Homo sapiens: one gene and its partners. The protein of the gene in region 2 interacts with the protein of the main gene of each other region in a pairwise test. Each region holds a gene or a part of one and is shown on either strand. Other genes may lie near its edges. The genes, in order: BLCAP, FAM241B, BIK and CGRRF1.

What was found.
Region 1: the proteins of FAM241B (region 2) and BLCAP interact in binary tests that used the Homo sapiens proteins (3 or more experiments, as listed by UniProt).
Region 3: the proteins of FAM241B (region 2) and BIK interact in binary tests that used the Homo sapiens proteins (3 or more experiments, as listed by UniProt).
Region 4: the proteins of FAM241B (region 2) and CGRRF1 interact in binary tests that used the Homo sapiens proteins (3 or more experiments, as listed by UniProt).

What each region holds. Positions count from the first base shown.
Region 1 is NC_000020.11:37,524,865-37,532,015, forward strand, and holds the start of BLCAP (apoptosis inducing factor BLCAP), read right to left. Parts: upstream 3,013-7,151; 5' UTR 2,929-3,012; intron 2,869-2,928; exon of another isoform or gene 2,710-2,868; intron 1-2,709. UniProt on the Homo sapiens protein: Acts as a tumor suppressor; induces growth arrest at G(1)/S checkpoint and apoptosis via RB1-dependent and p53/TP53- and NF-kappa-B-independent mechanisms. Modulates expression of genes involved in the regulation of proliferation, cell cycle and apoptosis.
Region 2 is NC_000010.11:69,625,787-69,633,246, reverse strand, and holds the start of FAM241B (protein FAM241B), read right to left. Parts: upstream 3,001-7,460; 5' UTR 2,934-3,000; exon of another isoform or gene 2,611-2,933; coding exon of another isoform or gene 2,588-2,610; intron 2,544-2,587; exon of another isoform or gene 1,972-2,543; intron 1,768-1,971; coding exon of another isoform or gene 1,700-1,767; intron 1,539-1,699; coding exon of another isoform or gene 1,504-1,538; coding exon 1,408-1,503; intron 458-1,407; coding exon 188-457; 3' UTR 1-187. UniProt on the Homo sapiens protein: May play a role in lysosome homeostasis.
Region 3 is NC_000022.11:43,120,745-43,127,768, reverse strand, and holds part of BIK (bcl-2-interacting killer), read right to left. Parts: intron 3,754-7,024; 5' UTR 3,747-3,753; coding exon 3,586-3,746; intron 73-3,585; coding exon 1-72.
Region 4 is NC_000014.9:54,526,904-54,533,927, forward strand, and holds part of CGRRF1 (cell growth regulator with RING finger domain protein 1), read left to right. Parts: intron 1-3,145; coding exon 3,146-3,323; intron 3,324-3,999; coding exon 4,000-4,147; intron 4,148-7,024. UniProt on the Homo sapiens protein: Able to inhibit growth in several cell lines.

The DNA of each region.
Region 1 (7,151 bases), on a different chromosome or scaffold from region 2:
TGGACATGTCACCTTGTACCCTTCATCTCCAGTTTCCCTCTCGAAGAGGGCCTTTGAGATGCCAGTGAACCCTAACACGCTAGAAACTGCCATAGCAGTGGCAATCAGGACTCATCAGGACTTGAAGAGGATGTGCAATCTGAGACTTCATCTTTCTTAGGCTGGGTGGCTATAGCTGCTACCATAGCCTGAAGGTGAGGCAGGTCTCCTCTCGCCCCAGTGTGACTCATCAGCAGGCAATGCCCACACCTCCTCCCTTCTGAACCCCATATCTTGGCAGGCCTCAAAACTGGGAGTTTCTGTGGTTTTCCACACTAAACCCACAGAATCATGAACATACCAACATGTGTTCTCCATGAAGGCTGACCCTCCCTTCGGAGCTTTTGAGGGGTATGCCCATAGCCCCACTGCCCTTCTTGATGCTCTAACCTCAGCCCAAGTGACAAGGTAGCAGATTTCAGGGAGGTAGGCCAAAGCAGCATGGTAAGAGCTGGCTGCTCTGGACACAGCACCTCTTGTGCCCCCACTTAGAGGACAAGAGGCTCCTGGTAGCCCCAGAGCTTTCCATATCATCTTGGCAAAGCCCTTTTCCTCCATCCGTCCATCAGCAGGGCTGTGAGTGTGGCAAGGTGAGATGACAGATTTCCAGGCAAGGGCTGCCCTGGTGGCCTGCACCTGCACGTGTGGGCTTCAATGTGCAATGTCCACTCCCCATTTGCATCCTCCACCCACAAAACTTCATGTTCTGGCAGCAAACTTAACCCACCAGAGAAGACAGTGCATTCACTTTCCATCCAGTGCAATGCCATGCAATGCCTAGATGGTCCAAACACACCTTGTTTATAAAATTTTTTCCACAAACTATACCATTAAACATTTTATTCTGATAGAGAGCAATGCGAAGAATTGAAAATGACTAGTGTTTTACTGCACAGCCCTTAGTCACAGTGCTGAACGTCCCCTTTGCCTAAACCATCATTGCTCCCAGAAGACTTTGCCCCCACAAGGCCAAGGACAGAGCAGATCGGTTGGGAAGGAATTGGGAATAGCTCTGTGGGACTCCAGCAACAGGTGAGAGACCCTTGAGACTAATACTCCAGGATGTTAGTTTCTTAGCCTAACGAACTGAAGTTAAGTCCAGAGGTGTTTAGGTACCATGACTTTTAGGGGTGCAGGGTGCTATGTGACACTGTTACCTTTATCTGTGGAATATTTGAATTGTCACTGAAGGAAGGGATGTCTGCTGTCAGGGAAGGGCAGGGGCAAGTTCCTTGAGCTTGGGCAACGGATTACTGTTGGATCGGGGAGCAGGTTTGCTGTGAGCCATTTACTAGATATCTATTTTGAAATGTGTATCTCCTCAGGAGCCAACACCCCAAAGGGAGATTCTGAATTTGCAGTTAACTTCCCCCCCCCACCGCCCCCACCCCCCCTCAGAGATTTAAACGTGTGCACTCATGCACATACACAAAACACTAGTCAAACAACAATCTCTTTTCCCCCCGGTAACCTCTGACTTCCTCTATATGCCCCAGAGACACGTTGTCACCATCTTCCCTGGGAGTGATCCTGTTTATCCTCCCCTCCCCGACTTGCCCTCCCACAGGGCCCATGCATGCCCCAGCAGGATCCAGATTCCTGAGCATTTCCAGAGCAGGAAGTCAGAGAGGCAGGCAACGCGTGGTTCTTGGTATATCGCACAGGGACAGGCTTGAAATGGAATGCATGTGTTTCAAAGATAGGAGAACAACAACAAAAAAAGACAGTCTAACCCAGATTCCTCTTTGAAACAACATATTACAGATTAAAGGTTAAACTGTTTTTGGCAGCAACTCTAACAAGACTAATTTCAGATATGGAATTGACCTGGTCACTGGAAACCGACCAGGCTTCCCGTGATCAAATCTTTTAACAGATTTGCTTGACATTAATTAGTCTCTGATTTAAAACAAACAAGCAAACAAGATCTAACACTTGGCATTAGCACTTAAGCTGGAACTTTTTTTTGGTCCCAGCTTTGGTGTTGCCGTCCAGAAGGCTGACGGGATGACTGGACCATGTCAGGCAGGGCAGAGAAGCCGTCCCCAACACACCAGTTCCCTGAAAGGGATAGACGATCCAAACCTATAAACAGAAAGGCTGTTTCTTTCCGAGGACAGACCCCAGTCTCCCAACATTCGGCGATGAAATGGGACACGGAGGCCTGGAAGGAAACTAAAGGAGATTTGGAAAGGGGAAGGAAAAAACAACTGTCCCCCATCCCCCATGCTTCCTTTCCAGGCCATTAGTGCGCCAGGCATTCCGTTCCTTCAGCTGCCCTTGAGGGCCACTCCCCACGTCTATAGAAGGAAAGGGAAGGGATGTCCACCCTTGATGTAAAGTTGGAGGGAGTAAGAAGCGCCCGCGACTCTTAGCAGAGCGTCAGCCTATCACCCCAGACACCGAAGCGGAGCCTCAGGAGACCCTCTCTCCCCTCACCCCCACGTCCCCCCACCTCCCCCCCAAAAAAGCAACTAAAGCAACGCAACTAAACTGATGGGGACAGAATGACAGGCCTCTCACAAGCTGGGCACCCTGCCGTGGAACCCGGGGCTGCAGAGATGGTGGTCGCGCTCCCAGCCCCGTGCCCCCGGCTCTGCCTGTCTCATCCTGCAAGGGCGCTGACCTTGGACAAGGCCAGAGCCAGCACCCAGGAGTACTATGACCCACCTCCGGGCTGGGAAGGGACCCCCCAAGGCCCAGGCTAGGTCCAATCACGGCAATCACCTGAAGCCGGACAGGGGCGCCCTGCCTTCCCGGGGTATGCGGAAGGAAAACCCCAGTGACGGGGACCCGGCGACGCCTAAGGTGACCCAGAAGGGACAATATGGCGGCGCGGCCGCATGGAGGGCCTCTCATCCCGCCCCAAGCAGGTTGACGCCACGGTACCTGCAAGCCCTGCCATGGCGCCGCCGCCACTGTCGCCGTCTGCCGCAGCCTGCCTCCACCTCAGCTCGCCACCGACGCCGCAGGAAGCCGGGGAGACGCCCCCTTAGTCTTCTAGTCGAGCCGGCCGAGGACCCATCCTGGGATCGGGCTGTCTACCGCAAACGCCTGATCACAAGGTCCGAAGTGGGGGCTCATCCTCGCCCCATTTCCCGTAAATATCAGCCACAGACCACCTTTGAGGACTTTGTATGCACTTTTACAAAACTCTGGGAGCCCCGAGATCTTCAAGCCCGAATAATTTTTATCAGGCGCAGTGTGGACAGCCCCGAAGCGCGGCCGGGTCCCCTCATGCATATGCAGCAGATTGTGATCCTTACTCCGTGAGCGCTGGGCGGGCCGGGTTGTGTTCATGTTGGTGAACCCGCTTCGTTCTTGCCCGCGTGGATGGTCCGTGGACTCCGGGAAAACCTTCTCGTGGCTCAAAGTCCACCCCCTCCCTAGCGTTTCATCATGCAGCCAAGGCTCAGGAGCTGAAAGGTCCGGGCTCAGAACTTGGGACTGCCTTGGGTCAGGCCTCGGCTCCCCCACTTGCCCCGTACCTTGGGCCAGCGAGCCCCTCGCCCACCCCGACCCGGCTTCTGTTGAAATGCCCACCTTAGGGCTTTTATGAGGCTTGAATGAGTCCGTGTAGTCATTTATTAGCTAATTAAGCATATTCCTTGGGCGCTTACTGTACCCAAGCGCAGTGCTAAGGGCAGGTAGAGTCGGTAACCTGGGTCTGTCCCTGACCTCAAGGCACTGCCAGTCTAATGGCGGGTAGGCGGGGAGACAGTCATATAATCACTGTATATTAGTGACTTTAATCAATACATAATTACACATCATGGGAAGTGCTGTGAGAAGAAGTAGAGAGTGTTAGGAGAAATTAATGGAGTACTAATGTAGGGAAAGGGTGGAACCTCCTTGGGAAGATGGCATTTAGGTTGAGAAACAAAGGACGATTAGGGTAAGAGTGAGAGGGGAAATGTTCTAGGCAGAAAGAACATTTGTCCCAGATCTGGAGCTGGGAAGCGGCAGAGTTGGGGTGAGGTGAGCACAGAAGAAAACAGGTCAGCTACATACTGAATTTGGCTTTTCTCTTGAGAGTCAGGGAAGCCATTTTCATCAGGAAGAGGATAGCAAATTAGGATTTCTGAAAGGCCACCCAGGCCGCATGGCTTGGAAAGCACTCAGGAGTGGGTGTAGGCAGACCAGTTAGGAGGTGGTTGCAGCTTTCCAGACAAAAGCCAATGCTGACTCAGACAGGGTGGTAGCTTGGGGAGGTGAAGGGAAGGGTGGAAGATTGGACTTGGGTGGATGTGGAGGCATTGGCAATAACTCCTCGCTAGGTTTTAGCCTTGAGTAAATGAAAGGGTAAAAGATTCCTTGACCAAGACAATAAAGCCTGAAAGAGGAACGGACTGAGGGGGAAGATCAAGTTCGGCTTTGAGAAGTTAAGTTTGAAATGTCGGGGCAACATGCAGGCAGAGAGGGTGAGTAGGCAGGTTTATGTGACACAGAAGCTGCGAACGGAGGCTGGGGCAGGAGATACATATTTGGGGGCCATCAATACAAAGGTCATGGTGCTGGGTGAGAACGCAAGTGAAAGAAGGTGGAGAGAAAAGAAGAGGAGGATCCGGGAAAGGAGACTAAGAAGCAGTGGCCAGTGGGGTAGAAAGAGGACCAAGTGAGTGTGGGTCCTAGAGAGGAGGTTTCAGGAAGGAGGGAGTGCTCAGTGGGGCTGATGCTGTTGAGAACAGAAATGGAGCCGTTGGGGTTTGGGAATAAAGAAGGTTGGTGGACTGTATCTTTTATGTTGCAAGTTAAACACACAACTACATCAAGTGGCTTAAAAAAATAAGTAGCCTGCCACTCAGTGGCTAGGCAGTGTCATCAAGGACTGAGGTTCATTTTATCTTCTGTCCTTGTGCTGGTTTATGCTCATGGCCACAAGATGGCTATCCAGTTCCTGAGGTCACATCCAAAGCAAGGAGATGTCCATTTCTCCTCCAGCTGAGACTCAAAACAGGCCTGAATGTGGCCTCCCACCATCCTGCTGCTTACAGGCTAAAGGATCAATGCATCCATGGCAGCCACACCCAGTATCCAACACTGAATGACAAGAGGAGTCTTGTAGTGGAAGCTCTTGTTTAGAAAAAGAGAGAGCTGGCTTTGCAGATGCCGCTGGGATCCCCATACTATCAGCCATGGTCAGCCCCACCTTGTTCTTTGACATCACTGTCGATGACGCGCCCTTAGGCCCCTACTCCTTCGAGCTGTTTGCAGACAAGATTCCAAAGACAGCAGAAAACTTTCGTGCTGTGAGCACTGGAGAGAAAGGATTTGGTTAAAAGGTTTCCTGCTTTCACAGAATTATTCCAGGATTTATATGTCAGGGTGGTGACTTCACATGCCATAATGGCACTGGTGGCAAGTCCATCTGTGGGGAGAAATCTGATGATGAGAACTTCATCCTAAAGCATACAGGTCCTGGCATCTTGTCCGTGGTAAATGCTGGACCCAACACAAACGGTTCCCAGTTTGTCATCTGCACTGCCAAGACTGAGTGGTTGGATGGCAAGCATGTAGTCTTTGGCAAGGTGAAAGAAGAAAGAAGGCATGAAGATCGTGGAGGCCATGGAGCGCTTTGGGTCCAGGAATGGCAAGACCAGCAAGAAGATCACCATTGCTGACTGTAGACAACTCCAATAAGTTTGACTTGTGTTTTATCTTCACCACCAGACCATTCCTTCTGTAGCTCAGGAGAGCACCCTTCCACCCCATTTGCTCCCAGTATCCTAGAATCTTTGTGCTCTCGCTGCAGTTCCCTTTGGGTTTCATGTTTTCCTTGTTCCCTTCCATGCCCAGGTGGATTGCAGAGTTTATGATTATGAAATAAAAACTAACAAAAAAAGAAAAAGAGAGCTGAATGTTGAGAGGCTGTGGAGCAACAAATTCTTGCAGTGCTGACGGCAGAGCAAATTGGTACAGCCACTTTGGAAAACCAGCATCTACAAAATCTAAACATACACCTATGCTGTGATCTAGAATTTCCACTCCTAGGTATGTACCCGAGAGAAATGAGTGCCTATGTTTACATGGAGACTTGTGCAAGAATGTTCATAGCAGACTTATTCATAGCTCAAATTGGAAATAGTTCAATGTCCATCACTGGAGAATGGATAAATTGTGGCATGTTCATGCAATGGAATACTGTGTTTTACATATAAAAGAACAAACTACTGTTACATGTAATAGCACCAGTTAATCTCACATATAGTATGTGGACTAAAAGAAGCCAGATACAAAACAGTACATACCATATGAATCCATTCATATAAAGCTCAACTAATCTATAGGGTTAGAAATCAAAATGGTAGTTACCTGGGTCAGGTCAGGAGTAGGGATGGGAAAGGAGCAAGAGGAGCTTTTCTGGGATGCTGGAAGGATTATATCTTCTTCTGGCTGGTGATTATGTAAGTGAAAATTCATCAAGTAAAAATTCACCATAAGACTAGGGGACTTCGGGAGGCAGAGGCTGCAGTGAGCCAAGATCGTGCCACTGCTCTCCAGTCTGGGCGACAGAATGAGACCCTGTTTCGGGGGAAAAAGAAAGAAAGAAAGAAAAAAGACTGGGGGCTTTATATACTTTACGTATGTTATACCTCAAGAAAAATAGAAGAAAGGGGCTGGGTGTGGTGGCTCACGCCTGTAATCCCAACACTTTGGGAGGCCAAGGCAGGTGGATCATGAGATCGGGAATTTGAGACCAGCCTGGCCAACATGGTGAAACCCTGTCTCTACTAAAAATATAAAAATTAGCTGGGTGTGGTGGCACGCGCCTGTAATCCCAGCTACCCGGGAGGCTGAGGCAGGAGAATCACTTGAACCTGGGAGGTGGAGGTTGCAGTGAGCCAAGATGGCACCACTGCACTCCAGCCTGGGCGACAGAGCGAGATTCCATCTCAAAAACAGAAACAAGAAAAATGGAAGAAAGGAAGGGGTCCTGCCATCCCATGGAATGTGACATGCTGCTAAACAAGGATCAGGTCTGTTTTGCGGGATACCACCTTCCAGTAACTTCAGGCTGAGTGTTAGCATGTACAAGGCCTCAGTGGCCAGCCCTTTCTCCCTGGGGCCCAGAAAACTGGGGAAGCTGAGGCAGGGCTTCTAATGCACATGGA
Region 2 (7,460 bases):
ACTTTGGAAATGCTGGACTAACGTCTCCCTCTGCCTCACGCTTAACACAAAGGGGAAACACACACCTGTGGTCCCCTCTCTGATCATACCTTCAAGGCACCACCAGATCCCCTCCAAATATGCCTGCTCTCACACCAAGGCCCAGCAAGTCCCTCTCAACAAACCCACCCCTATCAGCCCTCAGAGGTCACCGCTGACTCAGGTGGGACACCAGGTAGACAAGGCCAACCAGGAGGAGGCCACGAACACCAAGCATCATGAGCAGGAAGAGGAGCAGGATGGAGGTCACCGGCTCCACAGCATGGTTGCCAAGATGCCACTGCGGAAAGCCCATGTTCACCAGCTGCCGGTTGAGGTCATTGAAGGGGGACTGAGCAGCACCCAGCCTGGCACCTGCCTGCTGCTGGCGGGGGCCAGGACCCCCTGGGGGAGCACCATGGCCCCTGTTGAAGAAGCTCTGGAATGTGAAGACAGAGAGAGATGAATGAATCATTGGGTTGACGCACCAGCCAGGAATCAACCTCTCTAGGCTGCATCCTGCCCTTCCTACAGCCACCCAGGGTCACACCCTCCTTTCTCAGCAATCCCCCATGCCACCCATAAGAATCCCAACAACCAAGTCACAAGCTCTCAGAGCACAGAACATGCCAGTCTATATTCCTCACATCAGGCCCAGGACAGAGGAGAGAGGAAGTGGTTGAGGCAGGTTGGACTACAGGGCATGGCTCTAGGGCCAGCATTTTTAATACTCATCATCACTCCTTTCTTTTTTTTTTTTTTTTTTTTTTTGAGACGGAGTCTCGCTCTGTCACCCAGGCTGGAGTGCAATGGCGCGATCTCAGCTCACTGCAACCTCCGCCTCCCAGGTTCAAGCGATTCTCCTGCCTCAGCCTCCTGAGTAGCTGGGATTACAGGCATGCACCACCACACCTGGCTAATTTTGTATTTTTAGTAGAGATGGGGTTTCATCATGTTGGTCAGGCTGGTCTCAAACTCCTGGCCTCCTGATCCGCCCACCTCAGCCTCCCAAAGTGCTGGGATTACAGGTGTGAGCCACCGCGCCCAGCCACCCCTTTAAAATGATTATTCTGTGCCCAGGGCTCATCTCCTCCACTTCCTCTCCAGCTTCTGTCATCCAACCCACTCTTAAAAGAAAGACGCTAGCTCCAGTGAGGTTTGCTAACCAAGTTAAAGGAGAGAGAGCTCTTGGCTGTGAAGTCTGGGGAGGCGCCTGGAGAAAGGAGATCTGGGGAGGTAGACAATAAGCCACTGCATCTTCCCCAGCTCTCTGCAAAGAGGGCTTCAGGCTAGAAAAGGTTAGTGACCAGCAAGAGAGACTTCTGGAAGCTAGGAGTAGCCAGTACACAGGAGGCCATCTGTCCCACTCCACAGGAAATGAGTACCTACCTGTCGAGGAATGCTACCTCTTGGTGGCTGGGTAGTGGTCCTCACTCGGGGGTCGTCATCCTGCACGATTTCCCCATTGGCCAAGATCCGCACCATCCTCCCAGGCGCTGTGGGTCCCTGATGGGCTGCACCTGCATTGTGTGGTCAGGGTGGGCAGGCTAATGGAAGCCAAGTGGCACAGAAGTTCTCCCCACCACAAAACCTTTAGCTGTTAGTGATCTGGGACCAGACTCGTGAAGATCTGTGGAGGATTTTCCCCCTGACCTCAAAAAGCTTGAAGGAAAAAATTTACCAGAAATTGAGGGAGGCTTGCAGTCAGTGATGTTCACAGAGGTGACCCACGCTGAGTAGATGCTGTGTCTGATTAACAAAAAGGGGAGAAATAAAGGCAAGTTGTTTGCCAGGCAAAAAGATTTCAGACATTGAGTCCACCAGGAAAACTATCAAAAAGATCCTTGGCAAAGGAAGTTTTACTGCCAATCACTACACTGCCAACAGCACAACTGGGACTAGAGCCTCTGCTGTGGCCCACGCCCCGTGGAAGGCCCATCCTGCAAGGCTCACCTCACTCAAGCCTCACAACACTCCCCCGAGGAGGGTACTAGCGCGGCCATTGCACAGGCGGAGGCACAGGGAGACTTAAGTGGCCTGCCCGGGATCACACCTACGGACAGCAGAGAAGGAACACGAGGCCAGAAGCTCTGGTTCTAGGGCCCTCCCTGGGTACTAAACTGGGAGTCCAGGGCACCAGCATCCCCAGTGGGGTTCCAATTCCCTTCCACTAAAAAATGGGTCGAGTGTGTTGCTCCCCCAGGGAGTCAATGTCACCACCTGGGCCTTCCCCAGGAACACCCAGGGAGATGAGGGTCACTTCGGGGTTACTTTACAACCACTGCCTGGTAGCGGCAGACCATCCTAGCCATCATGCGCCTCGGAAGAGCACACCTTTGCTGCAGAGGGCACGCCCCTCACCTGTCCCTCACTTCGCAGGGAACACCAGTCCAACCTTGGCTAACGGGCGCAGGGCCCAGCCTTCCCAAAATATGGGAGGGGGTTGCTGCGGTGGCCCTCGAAAGGCTCCACTCCGCGGACCCCTGGACTGCGGGGCCCCTCCACGCCTCCCCTTGAGTCTGGGTAAAGGCCATTCATTCTCAGGAGATGAGCCTCAGTGTCCACCTACATTCCAGATAGCACTGGTGACATGTATGCCGAAAAAGGTCAGGAGCCCTGTGGTCTTGCCCGTAGCCTGGAGCCCGGGACAGGCGCGTCCCCCTCCTGAAGCCCGCTGGCCCTGGCGCAGGCCGAGCGGATGGTGGTCGCGCGCAGTCCCTTTGTGCTTTGTCATCGCGCCCCCGCCCGGTGGGCCACCCGCGCGCCCGGCCCGCGGCGCACCTGACATTCCGGGCCGGGGGCGGGAGGGACGCTGCCCCGGCCGCCAGCCCCAGCCTCTGGAGCCCGACACCGGCTCCAAGTCCCGGCCCGGGCTGCAGCGAGGGATGCGCTCCCTCCCCGGCGCGGCGACTCACCTGCAGGCGCGACTCCGGGCCTCGGCGGCGTCCACTCCCGGCGGCTCCAGGCGGTTTCCTCCCACCTGACCTCACAGGAAGCGCGCGCCGGAGGGGCGCGGCCCAGTGGCGGCGCACATCGCCCTCTGTAGGCCGCCTGAGGAATTGCACCTGCCCGGCCCAGGGTTGGGGGCGGCGCGGGGTGCTGGGGGTCGGGGAGATGGGGCGTGGGAAGGAGTGGGAGGTGGGGATGGAGAGAAAAGAGGATGGGAGGAGAAGACACGTGGAAAAGAAGGAGAAGAAGGAGGAGGGAGAAAAGAAGGAAAAGGAAGCGGCGTCCACGGAGGAAAAACCCAGGGGGTGGGGGCGCCCTGGCCTGGGAGGAAGGGCGGGCGCAGGCTCAGATGACCAGTGTTATGTTTGCTGACCCAGCTCCGTGGATGCCCCTTGAGTAGGACCCAACCCTGCCCTCTAGGAGTTCCAAGTTCAGTGGGGAAGATGAGGCAGGAACGGGGCAGAACCCTCTGTAGGCTTCCAGGAGAAGATGCGTTTGAGCTGGGGCAGGAGGGTAGGTAAGGATAGAGAAGGTCACTCTTGGCAGAAGGAACCACCTGCAGGGAGTGAATGATCCACCTCTGCCTCCTTCCTGATGTTTTAAAATCCACTTCTCCCCCACCACCTTCATAAGCTGCTCCCTGTGGACCTGCTCACCAGTGGGGGAGAATGAGCTGTGCAGTCCCACAGTCTGGGTTCAGGTTCTGGACTCTAGCAAGTTACTTAGCTGCTCAGTGTCACAAAGCAGGTGTAATCATAGCCTTACAGGACTTCTGTGAAGATTAAGTATGATGTCTCTGGCACATTGGCAATGTTGATAAACGTTAGCTATGATTATCATTTAATAAATGTTTGTGGGAGTGGCAGATATTTGTTGAGCATTTATTAGAACCCAGATTCTGCTAGCTGCTGGGCAGAAGGAACAAAACTAAGAGAGAGATTTAGACCTGGCCTGGAGGACTCATAGTCGGCCACCATAGTCTGATTATTTGATCATGAAACCTTATCAGCAAAAAATGTTTCACGGGTCGCTCTGGTATCTGTATCTTATTTATATGTTACTATTTTTGTTTGTTTCTAAATTACACATGTGTACTGTGAGAACAGATTGGCATGATGGATAAAAGGTGGCTGCTGGAGCCATCCTGTGTTTGAATGTTGGTGTGACTGCTTTCTGGCACTTTCGTGTCAAGTGCTTGGATGAGAGCCTGGCTGCAGTACATGCTCAACGGCTGCTGACTGTTATGATCATTACCTCTTCTACTATCAAGTCGATTGTAAAGCATGCACATTTTAAAAGCATAGGATGTAAAGTAAATATAAACCAAAATCCTAGTGCTTTCTCCCCACACCCCAGTGTGTTCCAGGTATGCCAAGTGCACGCATGAAAGCAGTAATCACAAGGCAGGATGCCCGATTGTCAGAGGTGGCCTGTGATCCCAAATCGCAATGTGCACATTGGAATTACCTGGAATGTTTAGAAACCATCCCAATACCTAGGTTCCACCCCAGAGATCACAATGTCGTTGATCTGGGTTACAATCTGTGCATGGAGACATTTTAAAAACCAGTCTTCTAATGAGCAGCTAGGGCCGAGAAACACTGCCTTCCATGAACAGAACCCCATAAGTAGGTCACGGAACTCAGGAGCCCCAAGAGGGAGGTAACCTCTGTGGGCTGGGAAACCAGGGGATACAGGCAGAAAATCATGGATGTTTTCAGGAAGATTTGAGCTGGTATAACTGCTGCCAGAGAGATACACTCCAGCTGGAGAGAACCGTAAGAGTCGAGAGGAAGAAGCAAGTCCCTACAGAAAAGTCAAGAACAGCTTTGGGGTGGGAAGTGATAGTGCTTGACTGGACTTAGAAATAGCCTATTATTACCAACTAAAATAGCCTAAGGAGGCAACATACCACTTTTGCTATCTCTCCACCTTCTTCAGGTGTCTCTCCTGCTCAAGAACCTGCAATGGTCCCTACTGTCTGCTCCAACAAGCCCCAACTCATTGGCAAGGCTTTGACAACCCTCCAACTCTAGCCCCAGCACACTGTCAGCAACTCCTTCCCTCAGCTCTGCCCACCTGGCCTCTTTGCTTTCCCTGAAGTAGATCACCCAAAGGCCTGCTTTGCTTGGGCCTGAATATCTGCTGGAAGGCCAGCTCCACCCAATCTAAATCCCTTCATCCACAAACGTGATTGTTTCATGTAATAATAATAATAACCCCTATATGTGCAGAGTCCTTACTTCCAAAGTGTTTTCCCAGAGACCACTTCATTCTTTTTTGGATTATGAAATAGAAAGAGTAGGTGTTATTATTCCTCTTTTACCAAGGTGAAATTGAGGCTCAGAGACAAGGTAGATGATGAGCCCAAGGTCAGTGACAGAGCCAGCGTTCAAATGAAGGCAGGTCCCCGGGCTCTGCATTCCAGGCTTTTGCATCCACCAAACAGACTCCCCTGAGTTCATCTCAGCTCTGCAGCCTCTTTACAATTGTGCCCCCACCTTCCCCAGTGCCATCAGCACAAGATTGGGCATTGGGTCATGCCTTAACCCCAACATGTGGTCAATAAAAATGTGCTTTTGGTTTTCTGTTCATAGCAGAGGTCATAATTTTTAAGTCAGGTGTCCTGGCCTGTTCTCTGACTCTGCAGGTGGGAACAACTGTTTCTGCCTCAAAAGAGAATGGCATGATGATAATGGTGATGTCATTTTAAATATATTAATCTATCTATCTCTTTCTCCTGCTATTTCCCCCTGTCTCTTTCCCCTACTCTGGCAGACACTATGCCTGTGTTTATTACTCAGAGAATGGTGTGGGAGAAAGGCAGCACTAGCTTGCCAGTGCCCACTGTTGGTGCCTCCTTAGGCCTGTGGCCATGGAAGACAGTATGACAGGGGCCTCTTCAGAGAAAACACTGGGAAAGGAGGAAATGATGGGAGCATAGGTGTTGTGTGCTGGATCTCAAAGGTGGGCATGAGGCTTGGGAAAGGGAATGGCCAGATAGTGAGTATGACAGGTAGGGCCTTATATGGCCTTGTGGAAATCCTTGGGTCCATTGTGTCTGAGGTGTGGTGGAAGGATTCTTGTGCTCCAGCAATGACAAGGGAGTAGTAAGTAGTAGTAGTAGTAGTAGTAGTAGTAGTAGTAGTAGTAGTAGTGGGAAAATTGCTGGACTTGAAAGGGTCAGGTAGACAGGTATGAAGGGTGGTTCAGTGATGGCCCTCATCCATGGACAGATGATGGGGGACCAGAGGATTGATGGAGGCCTCAGAAAACACCTTACATAGTCAGAAGACTGGAGTGGCCCCACAATATCTTGGTTATATGTAAGTATGTAAGTCCCCTAAGACATAAACCCACCTAGGTGTAATATATTAGCTTGAGTACAGGCTATGCTGCTGGAACAAAAAAAATATACAGTGACTCAATCAAGTAGATGGGCAGCTCTGCTTCACAAGGCCAGCCAAGGACATCCACTCTTCCTAGCTTATTGCTCCCCTACACCCTAGGATGCCACCCTTATTTGCGTCGTCAAAACTGCCTCACCAACTTCTTCGCCATATGCAGCTCATGGAAAGGTGAGACAGAAGAAATGAGGGCTAGTGATTTCTTTTAAAGAAAAGTATTGTAGGTGTAGCACATATTACTTCCCTCACATTCCATTGTGAAGAACGAGTCACATGGCTACAGGGCAGGCACTGATATCCCTGTGTCATTCCGGATATTGGTACTTGTGTCTTCTATCTTGTGTCTTTCACTTTTGCTAGAGGTTTATCAATCTTATTGACTGATCTTTTCAAAGAACCAGCGCTGCTTCACTGAGTCTTCTGTTTCTATTTTTCTGTTTTCAATTTCATTGATTTCTGCTCTTATCTTTATTATTTCCTTCCTTCTGTTTGCTTTGGGTTTATTTTGTTCTTCTGTTTCTAAGTTCTTGAGTCGGGAGTTTAGATTATTGATTTGAGATGTTTCAATGTAAACATTTAGTGCTATAAATTTCCCTGTTAGCACTTTTAGCTGTGCCCCACACATTTTGACGTGTATTTTCATTTTCATTTAGTTATATGTATTTTTAAATTTCTTTTGCTACTTCCCCTTTGGTCCATGGATTATGTTAAAGGATCATTTAGTCTACAAGTGTTGGAGATTTCCTGTTATCTTTCCATTATTGGTTCTAGTAATTACATTGTGGTCAGAGAACACACTCTGTATGAGTTCAATTCTTTTAAGTTTGTTGAGGTTTGTTCTAGGGCCCAGGATATGGTCTATCTTGATGAATGTTTCATAGAAGGTTGAAAAGAATATCCATTCTGCTGGTTTTGGATGGAATGTTCCATAAATCTTTCTTTTTCTTTACTTTTCTTTTCTTTTTTTTTTTTTTGTGACAGGTTCTGGCTCTGTCATCAAGGCTGGAGTGCAGTGGCGTAATCACAGCTCTCTGCAGCCTTGACCTCCTGCCTTAGCTTCCCAAGTAGCTGGGACTACAGGTATGT
Region 3 (7,024 bases), on a different chromosome or scaffold from region 2:
GCCAGGCGCGGGGCCCTGAGGCTCACGTCCATCTCGTCCCCGATGCAGGCCAGCCGCAGGGCCAATGCGTCACTGCAGGGAGCACACACAGGAGTCGGGTGTGGCTGTGCCGTGGAGGCCACATGCACCTGGACCCACCCAGCCAACGGATTGTGTGCAGCTGGGAGTGGCCCAGAGGATAAGAGATGGTGTCAGATTTGGGGCAGGCAGTGAGTGGGCCTCCCTGTATCCCTCCTCCGGCTCCCACTTGGATTCAGAGATACCCATGAGGTCCCATCCGTGGGTGGCCCCAGAGGTGCAAGCTATTTCAAAAAGAATCCTGGGGCAGGCCCACCTGTGGGCTTTGGTGGAAATGGTGGACAAGGGGAACAGGCAGGTCTGGGGGTGCTGAGCCCCCGGATGGCTGAGGCTGACCAAGGGGAATGGACAGGTCTGGTGGTGCTGAGTCCCCCGGATGGCTGAGCCCCCTTGAGCCCCCTTCCCACAGGGGTTGCAGCTTACCTTCCTTTGTGGGAGGTGAGGGGGCTCTAAGACCTGTGTCCTGGTCCCAATCCTGAAACCAGCCCTGCTGGCACCACCCCTCTCCAAATGGGGGGACTAAGAAGCCCCTAGTAGGCCCCCCACTAAACCACATCCTTGATCCTACACCCCACCCGCATTCACTCCCACACAAAGACTAAGACACTCCCCACCCTCCCAGCTTGCTGGTCTGGGCCTCTACCAGGGACCTGTGTGCATTCCATCCCAGTGACTACACCGGGGGAACTCCCAGGGAAGTGGGACTCCTAGGGGCCCTGAGCTGAGGCCGGCCCTGGGCCCTGGCCCCACCCACCTGACCTGCCAATGCCCTGGGCCTACACTCCCTACTTGGAGGGGATGCGGGTGGGAGGGGTACAGGTGTGGGCTGGCAATCAGGGTTGGGGGCTGTGGTCCTACCTTCTGTTACCCTGGGAAACCTCAGGAAAATACTGCCCCAGGCTTCATGTCCTCCAACCTTGTCCATTAATGGACAGGTGCCTCCAGTTCTAAAATCCTTAATGACTAAAAATCCTGAGGCTGAAAAAAAAAATCCTGAGCAGAAAAGAATCCTGTGGAACATGGAGCTGGTCCCTGGCCTGTGGGAGGTGCCACATCAGAGACAGGATTCCCCAGCAGAAAGCAACAGCCCAGGTCAGGCCTGACCATTCTCTTCCAGGCTCAGGGTAGAAACTACTGAGGTCAGCTGCTCCTGGGCCTTCACGTTCCTCATCTGTACCAGGGGAAGAATGAAAGTGCCAGTCCTGGCCGGGTGTGGTGGCTCACGCCTGTAATCCCAGCACTTTTTGGGAGGCCGAGGCAGGCAGATCACGAGGTCAGGAGATCGAGACCATCCTGGCTAACATGATGAAACCCTGTCTCTACTGAAAATACAAAAAATTAGCCAGGTGTGGTGGCAGGCGCCTGTAGTCCCAGCTACTCAGGAGGCTGAGGCAGGAGAATGGCGTAAACCAGGGAGGTGGAGCTTGTGGTGAGCAGAGATCATGCCACTGTACTCCAGCCTGGGCGACACAGCGAGACTCCGTCTCAAAAAAAAAAAAAAAGCCGGGCATGCTGGTGCACGCCTGCACTCCCAGCTACTCAGGAGGCTGAGGCAGGAAAATCACTTGAACCCGGGAGGTGGAGGTTGCAGTGAGCCAAGATCATGCCACTGCACTCCAGCCTGGGTGACAGAGACTCTGTCTCAAAAAAAAAAAAAAAAAGTGCAGGTCCTTCCTGCCGCTGGGATGGCCGGGTGTGCCTGGACATCTGGGTATGCTGCCGTGTGCTGGACATAGCTGGGAGCAGTTGGCAGAGTGCAAGGGTCAGGTCCTACTGGACCTTGGCCCCTGAAACCCCAGGCAAATCCTGCTGCCTCCAGGGTCCTTGTCAGTCCAAGGAAGATCCCTTCTTCATGCCTCAGTGATTCTTTGAAGCCGGGACCAGGAACTGCATGGCCTCCTCAGGCTCTTCCATAGGTTCTGGTTTTCTTTCTTTTTTCTTTCTTTCTTTTCTCTTTCTCTTTTTTTGTGAAACGGAGTCTTACTCTGTTACCCAGGCTGGAGTGCAGTGGTGCAATCTCAGGGCTCACTGCAACCTCCACGTCCCGGGTTCAAGTGATTTTCCTGCCTCAGCCTCCTGAGTAGCTGGGACTACCAGCGCCCATCCCCCCACCCCCGGCCCCATACCTGGGTAACATTTGTATTTTTAGTAGAGGTTGGGTTTCACCATGTTGGCCAGGCTAGTCTCGAACTCCCAACCTCAGGTGATCCGCCCACCTCAGCCTCCCAAAGTGCTGGGATTACAGGCATGAGCCACGGCGCCCGGCCCGGTTCTGGTTTTCTAAAATGAGAGCCGTCAGAGGCAGTTGAACCAGAGCGACTCCATCTTGATTAGGGGCTGGGTAACAAAAGGCTGAGACCTACTGGGTTGCATTCCCAGGAGGCTAGGAATTCTAAGTCACAGGATGAGATAGGACATCAGCATAAGATACAGGTTACAAAGACCCTGCTGATAAAACAGGATTCGGCAAAGACGCCAGCCAAAGCCCACCAAAGCCAAGATGGGCACAAAAGTGACCTCCAGTCATCCTCACTATTCATTGTGCACCAACTATATTAGCATGTTGGAGTCACTCACCAGTGCCACGACAGTTTACAAATGCCACGGCAACGTCAGGAAGTTGCCCTATATTGTCTAAAAGGAGGAGGAATTCTCGGTTCCGGGAACTGCCCACCCCTTACCCGGAAACTCATGAATAATCCACCCCTTGTTTAGCATGTAATCAGGAAATAACTATAAGTATATTCAGTTGAGCAGCCCATGCCGCTGCTCTGCCTATAGAGTAGGTTTTCTTTTTTTGAGATGGAGTCTCGCTCTGTTGCCCAGGCTGGAGTGCATTTTTGCAACCTTGGGTCACTGCAACCTCTGCCTCCTGGGTTCAAGAGATTCTCCTGCCTCAGCCTCCCGACTAGCTGGGACTACAGACATGTGCCACCAGGCCCAGCTACTTTTTGTATTTTTAGTAGAGACAGGGTTTTGCCATGTTGGCCAGGCTGGTCTCGAGCTCCTGACCTCAAGTGATCCGCCTGCCTCAGCCTCCCTAAGTGCTGGGATTACAGGCGCGAGCCACTGCGTGTGGCCCAAATTCTTTCTTGCTTGAGATCTAAGAACCCTCTCTTGGGATCTGGATCGGGTCCCCTTTCTGGCAACAGAGTCACCTCCTTCAAGAGGCCCTGATGTCCTCAGCAGGTCGCTAAGGGCCTGTCTAGCTCCCTGAGGCCCAAACACTGTGCCATTTTGACAGCCAGGGGCCCCAGGTCCATCTTGAGACTGTGAACATGCTGGCTGTCCAGGGGTCTGTGAGCTGGTATCAGGGGAGGGTGGGGCAGCAAAGTGAAGCCGCTCCCAGGGCAGAAGCCTCCATGCCCACATCCGGGAAATCTTCCTCTCGGAGGCCCTGCCTGGGAGGCATCTGCAGGCGCTCCCCCGCTCATAGAATGTCTGCTCATCCAGCCCACCCCTGAAGTCACTATCAGGCAGGGGGTAGGGCAGGCCATGGGGACCTACCTGCCCTCCATGCATTCCAAAGAATCGAAGTCCTCCATAGGGTCCAGGTCCTCTTCAGAGTCAGTCATGCCAAGAACCTCCATGGTCGGGGGTTCCAGGAGCTGCTCATACAGGAGGGTCTCCATCAAGATGTCTCTGGAGAGGGGTCTTACTTCAGACATTTCTCCTCTGGGGCAAAAAGACAGCATATGACTGGACCCCTAAGAACTGAGCAGTCTGGGGGCTCTCTCACAGGATGACCCCCAGATTGTATAGCCCTACTCACCAGCTCTTTTGATCCGCTAAAGCCGTCAATATCCCCCAACCCCAGCTCCCACAGGCATGAATCCTGCTACATGCTGGCTGTGTGCCTCTGGGCAAGTCGCCTAGCATCTCTGTTCTTGGAAGGGAGGAACTTGAAGATGATTCATAAGGGCCCTTTCTTTCTTTCTTTGTTTTTGGATACTGAGTCTTGCTGGAGGCTGGAGGGCAGTGGCACAATCTTGGCTCACTGCAACCTCTGCCTCCTGGGTTCAAGCAATTCTCCTGCCTCAGCCTCCCGAGTAGCTGGGACTACAGGCATGAGCTATGCCTGGCTAATTATTTTGTATTTTTAGTAAAGACGGGGGTTTCATCATGTTGGCCAGGCTGGTCTTGAACTCCTGACCTCAAAGTGATCCACCCCACCTCGGCCTCCCAAAGTGCTGGGACGACAGACATGAGCCACCACGCCCAGCCTTTTTCTTCTTTGTGAAACAAAATCAGAGTATAAATAAATATTAGAAGTTCTCCTCGGACACCAGCCCTCAAGAACCTGTCAAAGCAGAAAACCCAGGCACCTGCTGTCAGCACAGGGGACAGAGGCCAGGCTGCAGGGCGATTCCTCTGTACCACTTAACAGAAGGCTACACCTGTTCTTTGGTGTCTGCTGTTTCTCTTGAGAAGAAAGGCAGAGAGGCAGCATGAGAAAAACGTATCACAATCCCCATTCCCAGAGAGACCATCGCTAATTCTTCTAGTGTTTTTCCTAAACACTTGTGCGCATCACACATCCTTCTTCACAAATGGGATCACCCCATACAGTGTCTTACAGCCTTCTTTACTGGCAGATGCTATTTACCTCTCCGATATCCATTCCACCTGGCTCCTTGCTGATAGAACCCCAATTTTCTTCGGGGTGGCCCTGCATCCTCATTCATCTAAGCCAACCATGGCCCTCCTCTCCCTCAGCTTCCCAGCATCCCTTGCAGCTGGTGACAACCATGTAACCCAGTTCTGGTCAATGAGGGCTCAGAGGCTGGAGGCAGGGGTTGGATGCCAGGGAGTAGACACAGCCAGGGCAGCTCCTTCAAAGATGGAGCTGCAGTGGCTGACCAAGAAGAGCAGAGTGGGGAGGCAGAGAGCGGCCAGGCCTGAGGGTGTCACTGAGCTGTCTCCTCCAACTGTGTGTAAGAAAAATGAACCCAAATGTGTCCTCATCACCATTCACTGAGTTTCCTCTTCTTTGCCACCAAAGGCCTTCCTAACTATGATCATTGCGAATCCCATGCCAGTACATGTTTCATCATGATGGCAGAGAAGGGTTCTGCGACCTGATTCACCATCATGTACCCCACATTTACCCTACAGGGTACCAAACAGCCTTAGATGTAGATGACGATAATGACGATGACTGTGGCACGGAAATCTAATGGCCTAGTTCAAAGCCCGGCTCTGGCAGTTAGCAGCAGTGTGTCAATTTCTTCATCTGTGAAATGGGTTTCATGGTCTGAGAGCCCCGCCCTGGGCTATTGGGAAGACGAAATAAGGAACTCCTTCATGTACTTTGAACAGGGCCTGGCACGCTGGGAGGAAGTTGGCACTAACCATTACCTTTATGCTTCAACTCATTATTTTCTTACCATAATGCCCTGGGTGTTCTTAATTTTTAATTCCTCATGCCTGCTGACAGGACACTCCGCCCTCCCACCATCTCACTGAGCTGTTTGTTCACACAGGACACTGAGGCTTAGAGAGGTTCATGACTAAGCCAAGAAGGGACAGAGCTCCAAGTCTCCCTGACCCCCAGGAGAGAGAAAACTGACGGCAGGCAGGACCCACAGCGCCGCCCTCCCACAGGCCTAGGCACAAGTGTGTGCTCACGACTTGCTTTCAGCATTCAAGGGAGATGGATGGGCCGGGTGCGGTGGCTCACGCCTGTAATCCCAGCACTTTGGGAGGCTGAGACAGGCGGATCACCTGAGGTCAGGAGTTTGAGACCAGCCTGGCCAACATGGTAAAACCCCGCCTCTAATAAAAATACAAAATTAGCCAGGCGTGGTGACATACGCCTGTAATCCCAGCTTGAACCTGGGAGGCAGAGCTAGATTCTGACTCAAAAAGAAAAAATAAGGTTTCACAGATGAGATGTTTTACATTGTATAGACGGCCAGCAGTGTGCGTGTTAAGCTGGCATTAGAAGAACTGTGTCCAGAACTTCCAGCTGCCTTGGGTGTCTATGCAAATGGCATTTCCCTAGGAAAGCAGCTCCAGCCCTTGTTTGCTTTTCCCCCCTTTCCCTTCCCCTCGAAAAGGCAGTCTCCTGCTTTGTGCTCCTGGAGACCCCAGTACCTCCACGCCCCGCAAAGCCAGAGCAACAGTGGAACCTCACCTCACTGTGAGCTGAGCTGTGAGCTGCACCGAGCCTCGCCTTGACCCACTGTGCCCACAGCCCCCTTACCCAGCAGGCATTCCGAGAATCCTTAGGCGCCAGATAGGAAGAAGGCCCCAGCCACCAGAGTGGGCTGCGCTGCCGAGGGTCTGCAGCAGAGTGCAGGTCAGGCCTACCTGAGGAGTCAGTCACCCACGCTCTGCCTGCAAGACCCTTTCAAGCTCCCCACCCTGCCAACCTCCCCATCTGAGTAGACCCAGGACCACATCTCACCTTAGGTTGATACCCTAGCCCAACCCTTCCTGCACCAGCCTCAGTTTCCCCATCTATTGTGTTTTTGTTGGTGGTAGTGTTTTTTTGTTTGTTTGTTTGTTTGTTTTTGAGACAGTCTCACTCTATTGCCCAGGCTGGAGTGCAGTGGTGTGATCTCAGCTCAGGTGCAACCTCCGCCTCCCAGGTTCAAGTGATTCTCCTGCCTCAGACTCCCAGGTAGCTGGGATTACAGGCACATGCCACCACACCCGGCTAATTTTTGTATTTTTAGTAGAGTCGGGGTTTTACCATGTTGGCCAGGCTGGTCTCAACTCCTGATCTCAAGTGATCCACCCGCCTCAGCCTCCCAAAGTACTGGGATTACAGCACTTTGGATTAATTTATTAAATACCCATTACCCTCTACCACAAAGAAGGGACCTAATCTGAACCTTTAACCATCTGGCCTCTGGGCCCAGGCCCTCAGATTGACTTGATATGAATGGCAAAGATCCCATCACCAACTGGGCCTAGGCTGGCCTTAGGGCCCAGATCTGCA
Region 4 (7,024 bases), on a different chromosome or scaffold from region 2:
CTTCCTCAAGAAGGTTTGTGGCTTTTCCGCCCCATCATTTCTCCCTTTTTAGTGGCTTAGCATATTTTCTACAGTCCTTATTTTTTTCACTTTTTTGCAAGGCTGTCTCTTACACTCCGCTTTATTTGCTTGTTATAGATAGTCTGGGTAAGGACAGTTTGAGAGATACCACACCCATGTGCTTCACTTATTTTGATTCTGAATTTTCTTACAGCTACGTCCCAATTCTGTTAATGCTATTGATCTAAAGTGATGTCATGTGTGTACTGAGTTTTAGAAGGCAAAAAAATACATAAAAATTGAAACTCTTTGCAAAAAAAAAAGTGGAAAAGGTAAAGGGAGAATAGTTTTGATGGGGGTACTGACACTGTCTTCAGATAGTGGAAATCATTACATTCTCCCCTCAGTTTATGTAATGGACAAGTTTGTAAAAGATTATAGAGATATACCTAATGCTAAATGACGAGTTAATGGGTGCAGGACACCAACATGGCACATGTATACATATGTAGCAAACCTGCACATTGTGCACATGTACCCTAAAACTTAAAGTATAATAATAATAACATTAAAAAAAGAGATTATGGAGAGTATAATTTTATAGATTCTGTAGTTTTTTTAAATTAATTTTAGAGACATTTTAAGATCTGATTAATCTCCAGTTGTCAAAGGTCTCTGACACTCTTCCCATTTTAGTTAAGTATACAAAGTCTATAAACGAGTCTCTTAAGTAGCTCTGAATCTTTGGGGCTCTGGCTTTTTTTTTCTTTTTACAAAGCAAATAAACAGGGTAGTTTTATATGTTCTGTAAGCTGTAAGTTGAGTTTTAAAAGGCTTATCCTTCCATTGTTCTTTTTTTTTTTTTCTTTTTTTGAAACAGGGTCTCACTCTGTCATCCAGGTGGAAATGTAGTGGTGTGATCATGGCTGACTGCAGCCGTGATCCTCCTACCTCAGCCTTCCAAGAAGTTAGGACCACGGGTGCGTGCCACCATGCCCAGCTAATTTTTGTGTGTTTTGTAGAGACATGGTTTTGCCACGTTGGCCCAGGCTGGTCTCAAACTCCTGGCTCAAGTGATCTGCACATCTTGGCCTCCCAAAGTGCTGGAATTACAGGCATGAAACACCACACCCAGCCTGTTCTTCTTTAATGTAAACAAACACATATATGGGTATCCATTCTTGTGAGATAAACAGTAGCATATATATTTAATTTTCTCTACCTTGCTTTTTTTTCATTTACTAATATATTCTGAAGATCATTTCATAATAGTGTGTGCAGATACTCTGATATACCTCAATTCTTTTTTTTTTTTTTTTTTTTTTAAGAGACAGAGTCTCACTGTGTCAGCCAGGTTGTAGTGCAGTGGCACGATCTCGGCTCACTGTAACCTCCGCCTTCCTATTCACTTTTAATAGCTTCTTAGTACTTTATTGTAGAGTACTATATTTATTCATTTAATCCGCATTGATGAACATTTGGGTTTATTCCAGCATTTTGCTATGATAACTAGTGCTATAATGAGTAGCCTTATACATATATCTTTTCACATTTTTGCTAGTAATACAATAATAAATAATCATTTTGTGTTTCTTGTTTTTTCTTTTTCAATGTTTTAAAATATGCATTTTCTATTTTTTCCTTTCGTATCTACCTCCAGCTTTTTTCTTCTGCCTCATGTTATGTGGTTCTACAGTGACAAAGGGAAAAATATGTGTGATTTTGTATGTGTGTGTATATGTGTGTATATGTATTTGTGTATGTATAAATAAAATGTTTTCCTTCAGCTATTTAATATCAAATGGAATTTTTCATTCTTGAGTTAATACCTGATGATTGGAATCATAAAAATTTGAAATCAAAGCCTGCTCCAATTAACCTATGCAAAGTTCCTACCAATTAAAATTTTTCCTTAAGTATGATTAGAAATGGCCATGTATCAATGCTACTCAGACTCTCAGACTGTGTGTACATACTACTAAATACTGAGAGTAAAATTGGAAAAATCAGTTTTTGGTATCCTGTGGAGCATCTGCTTGTATTTGTGTATCTTCTTCTAACATATACTCTTGATCACATTTTAAAAAATAGGTAATATATCAATCAGAATTCTTATTAGCAAGCAACAGAAACAACTTCAATAAAAGGATATTGGGTAGCTTACAGAATTGCTGGCAGGTTTGGAGAGCCAAAATCAGATGCCAAGGCTGTTGAGCCAGGAACAATGACCAAAACCAGGCCCTTTTTATCTAGTCAGTGTATCAGTGCCAAGGAGTACTACACGTTACAGTTTGCGCTGCTACAGTTTGCACCCCCAGCAGTATGAAAGGCTGGATGTTGCTACCCTTGAATGTGATATTGCTACAAATACCACTAGGAGGGGGAAATCACATAGGTGACACAAAGTAAGTCCTATACAAGTGTTAAATAAAACTGTATAATTTCACATCTACTTACAATTTGTATATCCATTTAATCAGGTCTACTCAAATTGTTATATCTTCTTAAGTTGAAAGTGAACAACTGAATTAAGATACCACTATTAAACTCTTTATGTTTTGGAATCCCCACTCTTTTCCTCAGGATATTTTGCATATTACATGGGACATTAAGTCTGTGACAAGCCTGTATGTTAATGTTGTCAATGTATACATTAATGTTAGTAAAGCTCAGTTTCTTTTTAATATTTTTCTTACAACAGCGATCATGTTGTGGAGCCTATAGGTTGTACATATCCCCTTTAGAGGACAGCTGTATTCTGCTGCACTGTTTCTTGTCGTTAGGATCATATACACTATGAGAGTGGTAGGTTATCAATAGTGAACTGTATTTTAGTTTTAAAAATCTAGATGGGAAATGTCTTAGAGTCGCCAAAAAAGAAAATTAACAGTTTCTAAGCTTTAATAGATAAATAGTAAGAAATAGTTTTTTGATAGCTCTCAAAAAATGTGTAGACATTGAGCTTTTATATCTCTTGTTACAGAGGCCAGTTCCTTCGTTTATAGGAGGCATACCCTTTAACAAGTTCTTTTAACTGCCATCATCCTGGCCAGCATCCAAAAGGAAGCTTTTGTTACTCACCCTGTATGATTGTATTAGAAGTTACATTAAATCACTTTCATTCTTTCTCCTTTGTTTTTTACAGCTGGCATAACCTTGACAACAGATTGCCTTGAAGATAGCCTCCTTACATGCTACTGGGGGTGCAGTGTTCAAAAATTATATGAAGCTCTGCAGAAGCATGTTTATTGCTTCAGAATAAGCACTCCCCAAGCATTAGAAGATGCTCTGTATAGTGAATATCTCTATCAGGAACAGTATTTGTATCCTTTCGTCTGATATACCCATTAGCACTGAAAATTAGACTTCTTATGGATAAAGTGTTGCTAACTTATTGATCATTCTTGGTATACTAGAAGCATGTTTATTGCTTCAGAATAAGCACTCCTCAAGCATTAGAAGATGCTCTGTGGAGTGAATATCTCTATCAGGAACAGTATTTGTATCCTTTCATCTGATATACCCATTAGCACTGAAAATTAGACTTCTTATGGATAAAGTGTTGCTAACTTATTGATCATTTTTGGTATACTAGAAGCATGTTTATTGCTTCAGAATAAGCACTCCCCAAGCATTAGAAGATGCTCTGTGGAGTGAATATCTCTATCAGGAACAGTATTTGTATCCTTTCATCTGATATACCCATTAGCACTGAAAATTAGACTTCTTACGGATAAAGTGTTGCTAACTTATTGATCATTTTTGGTATACTAGAAGCATGTTTATTGCTTCAGAATAAGCACTCCTCAAGCATTAGAAGATGCTCTGTGGAGTGAATGTCTCTATCAGGAACAGTATTTGTATCCTTTTATCTGATATACCCATTAGCACTGAAAATTAGACTTCTTATGGATAAAGTGTTGCTAACTTATTGATCATTTTTGGTGTATTTTTGTTCTTATGGTTATAGTGGCAATTTACCTTTACATTTTCAAAAAGTATTAAAAAGGATAGCAAAGAAGAAATATATTGCCAGTTACCAAGAGATACTAAAATTGAAGACTTTGGTACAGTACCCAGATCTCGCTATCCATTGGTAGCGCTATTGACCTTAGCTGATGAGGATGACCGGGAAATTTATGATATTGTAAGTAATTGAAAATTTTGAAAGCATTACCTTTAAGTGATTTGAATGGTGGTTCTTCATTATTTGATAAATAGAAAAAGTTTTATTTTAATTTCTGAGGATGTGCATTTGGCCTACAACAACTATATACCTATTTGGTTTTTATATGTGAAACAGTACCTTCAGATTATGACTCATTTCTTGCCTTATGGGTCACAGTAATATGACTTTATTTGGAAAATAAAAGATATATAATGGTTGAATTAAGTTAGTTTCATCATTAACACCTATTTGGTTGTATACACCTATTTAGTTTTTATATGTGTAACAGTACCTTCAGAGTATGACTCATTTTTTGCCTTATGGATCACAGTAATATGACTTTATTTGGGAAATAAAAGATATATAATGGTTGAATTAAGTTAATTTCATCATTCTGTATTCTGTCATATTTGCTGTATAGAAACAGTCTGTTGGGAAGCATGTTTATTCTGAACATGTTTAGCAGTGAATAAATAAGCACAATAATGATCGAAAGTGCTCAATTTTAAGATAGTATCCACTCTTTTTTTGCCTGCTTGCAGTCACCTTGTTTCCATCAAAGTCCCTGCTGCACCTATATCTTATATGTCTGGTCCCTGTATTTTCAGTAATTATAATAATCTCCTTTCCTCATTATGTGCTAATTATTTTTTCAGTCTGATAGTTGATTCCTATTAGGAAGTTAAAAGTATCTTAGAGATCTAAGAGGACTGAAACTTTGACAATCATCTGAGTATAATAGAAACTTAGACATGAAATAAACTTTTGATGAAATTGTATCATGGTAAAAATGTCCTTACACACAATTGACTACTTTTCTGAAGTATTTAATATAGATTATTCATTAATAAACATATGGTAACATTGTTTTGTGATATTCGTAATATGCAAAGTACGTTCACAAACATGAACTTATTTTTTTCTTCTAACAACCTGGTTTCTTAGGACAGGGCAAATATTCTCCTTTCACAGACTGAAACAGAGTCAAGAAAAATCCCAGTCATTCAGGCAGTAAGAGATGGAACAAGAGCTTGACTCTGAGCTTTTTGTGTGTGTTTGTTTGTTTTTGTTTTTTGAGTTTATTTTTTTTAGCAGGAATATCTTCCTGCAACAAGTGTACATTGAGCTTTGGAAGGTAAAGACTCTTTGGGAAATCTAGACCCTTCTTACTCATTTGCAGTTAAGCACCTAGGTTTTTGGTTTTTAATATTTTCAAACTGAAGTTCCATTGAGCTGAGGTCAGCTTATTTTTTCCAAGTCATGGGGAGCAGAGGGGAAGGAAATGGGGATATGTAGGTCACTAGAGACAAAGTTACAGATACATAAAATGAACAGGTCTAGAGATCTAATGTACAGCATAAAGACTATAGTTAATGTGGTATTGCTTTTGGGATTTTTGGTGCTCTTGCCACATGCAAAAAAAGTGGAAGTAACTGTGTAAGATGATGCGTAATTTGCATTATAATAGTAACCATTTCACTAGGTATATATATATCAAAACATCCTGTTGTACACCTTAAATATATACAATAAAAATACAAAATACAAAAGTCATACCAGCAGTAGTGTATTTCCAGAACCTAGTACAGTGCCTAGGATATAATAGGGGTTCAATAAAGATTTGATAAGTAAAAAAAAAAAAAAAAAGTCATACTAGACAATGTTAATGAGCCTCATAGAGCTTGACAGCGAAACACCTTAGCTGTACATCCCATGCACCTTAGCGTGCATGAGAGGCCTTCTGGCTTCCTCCCTCCTTTCTCTCAGTTTCAGTTAGAGATAAATAAAACCTGTTAAATTGGTGTCTCCTATTTCTAGCTTCTTTGTTCTTGACCCTGTGTACTTGGGCAAGGAAGCCCTTCTGCCCCCACTGTGTGCCCCATCTCTGCTGAGTTTCTTGGGTTCTGTTCTCCTTTTTCCTTTGGTTCAGCACAAAAGGATCAGATCGCAGTCATTTTCCCTCCCAGCTTCCCCATTGCATTCCTTTTCCCTTCACTGATAGTGCTCTCTAGGTGCTCAGGGTCTTTTTTTTTTTCTAACTTTCTTCCCCTGTCCAAACAGGGAGTGATTGTGTATCTGTGTGGTAAAATATATATATTTTATATATAAAGTTTACCATTTTAACCATTTTTGTGTGTGTGTTTTCAGTTCAGTGGCCTTTTAGGCCAGAGAAGAGTTTGCTCTCAGGTCCCTGATCACACTGGATGAAGACTGTGTGGCCCAGCTGTAGTTGTGGGAGGCTTGTTCCCATAGGGAAGCCTGAGTGTCTCCCAAGGGTTAACAGCCATCTTCTCTTGTGCTTTGTGTATGTCTCTGTGTCTGGGTCCTTTTGAATGTCTTTTATTCTCATCTGTGGGCTCCCTCCTTTTTTCCTGTTAATCCTTGCTTCTCGTCTTATTTCTTAGATTGGGGGTAATATTGGCACTCAAATATATTTATTAGTGTATTTTGTATTAATGTTCTCTGTTTATAATTTTAAAAGCAAATGGACCATTTCCTATTTCTTTTTCATATGTGTTTTTTCAGTATTGTATGTGCGTGTCAGGGACTATATTTTTTTAAAAAATTTATTAATAAAATCATTTTTATTTTAACAGCAAAGAATTATATTTAGGTAGTACAGTTAGGAACCACTTTGTTGTTTTAGATTAAAAAAAGGAAAGCAGGAATTGTTACTACAAAATTTTGACTTTAAAATTTTTTCATTTTTAGTTAATTACATTGGCTTTTTTTCAGTATTATTCAAATAATACATTTGTGGCAGGAAAAAAAATTAGAAAGTGTAGATAAGCCAAAAGGAGAGAAGTATAATAATCTGTATTCTATCATCCAAAAATAATCACTGTGAATATTTGT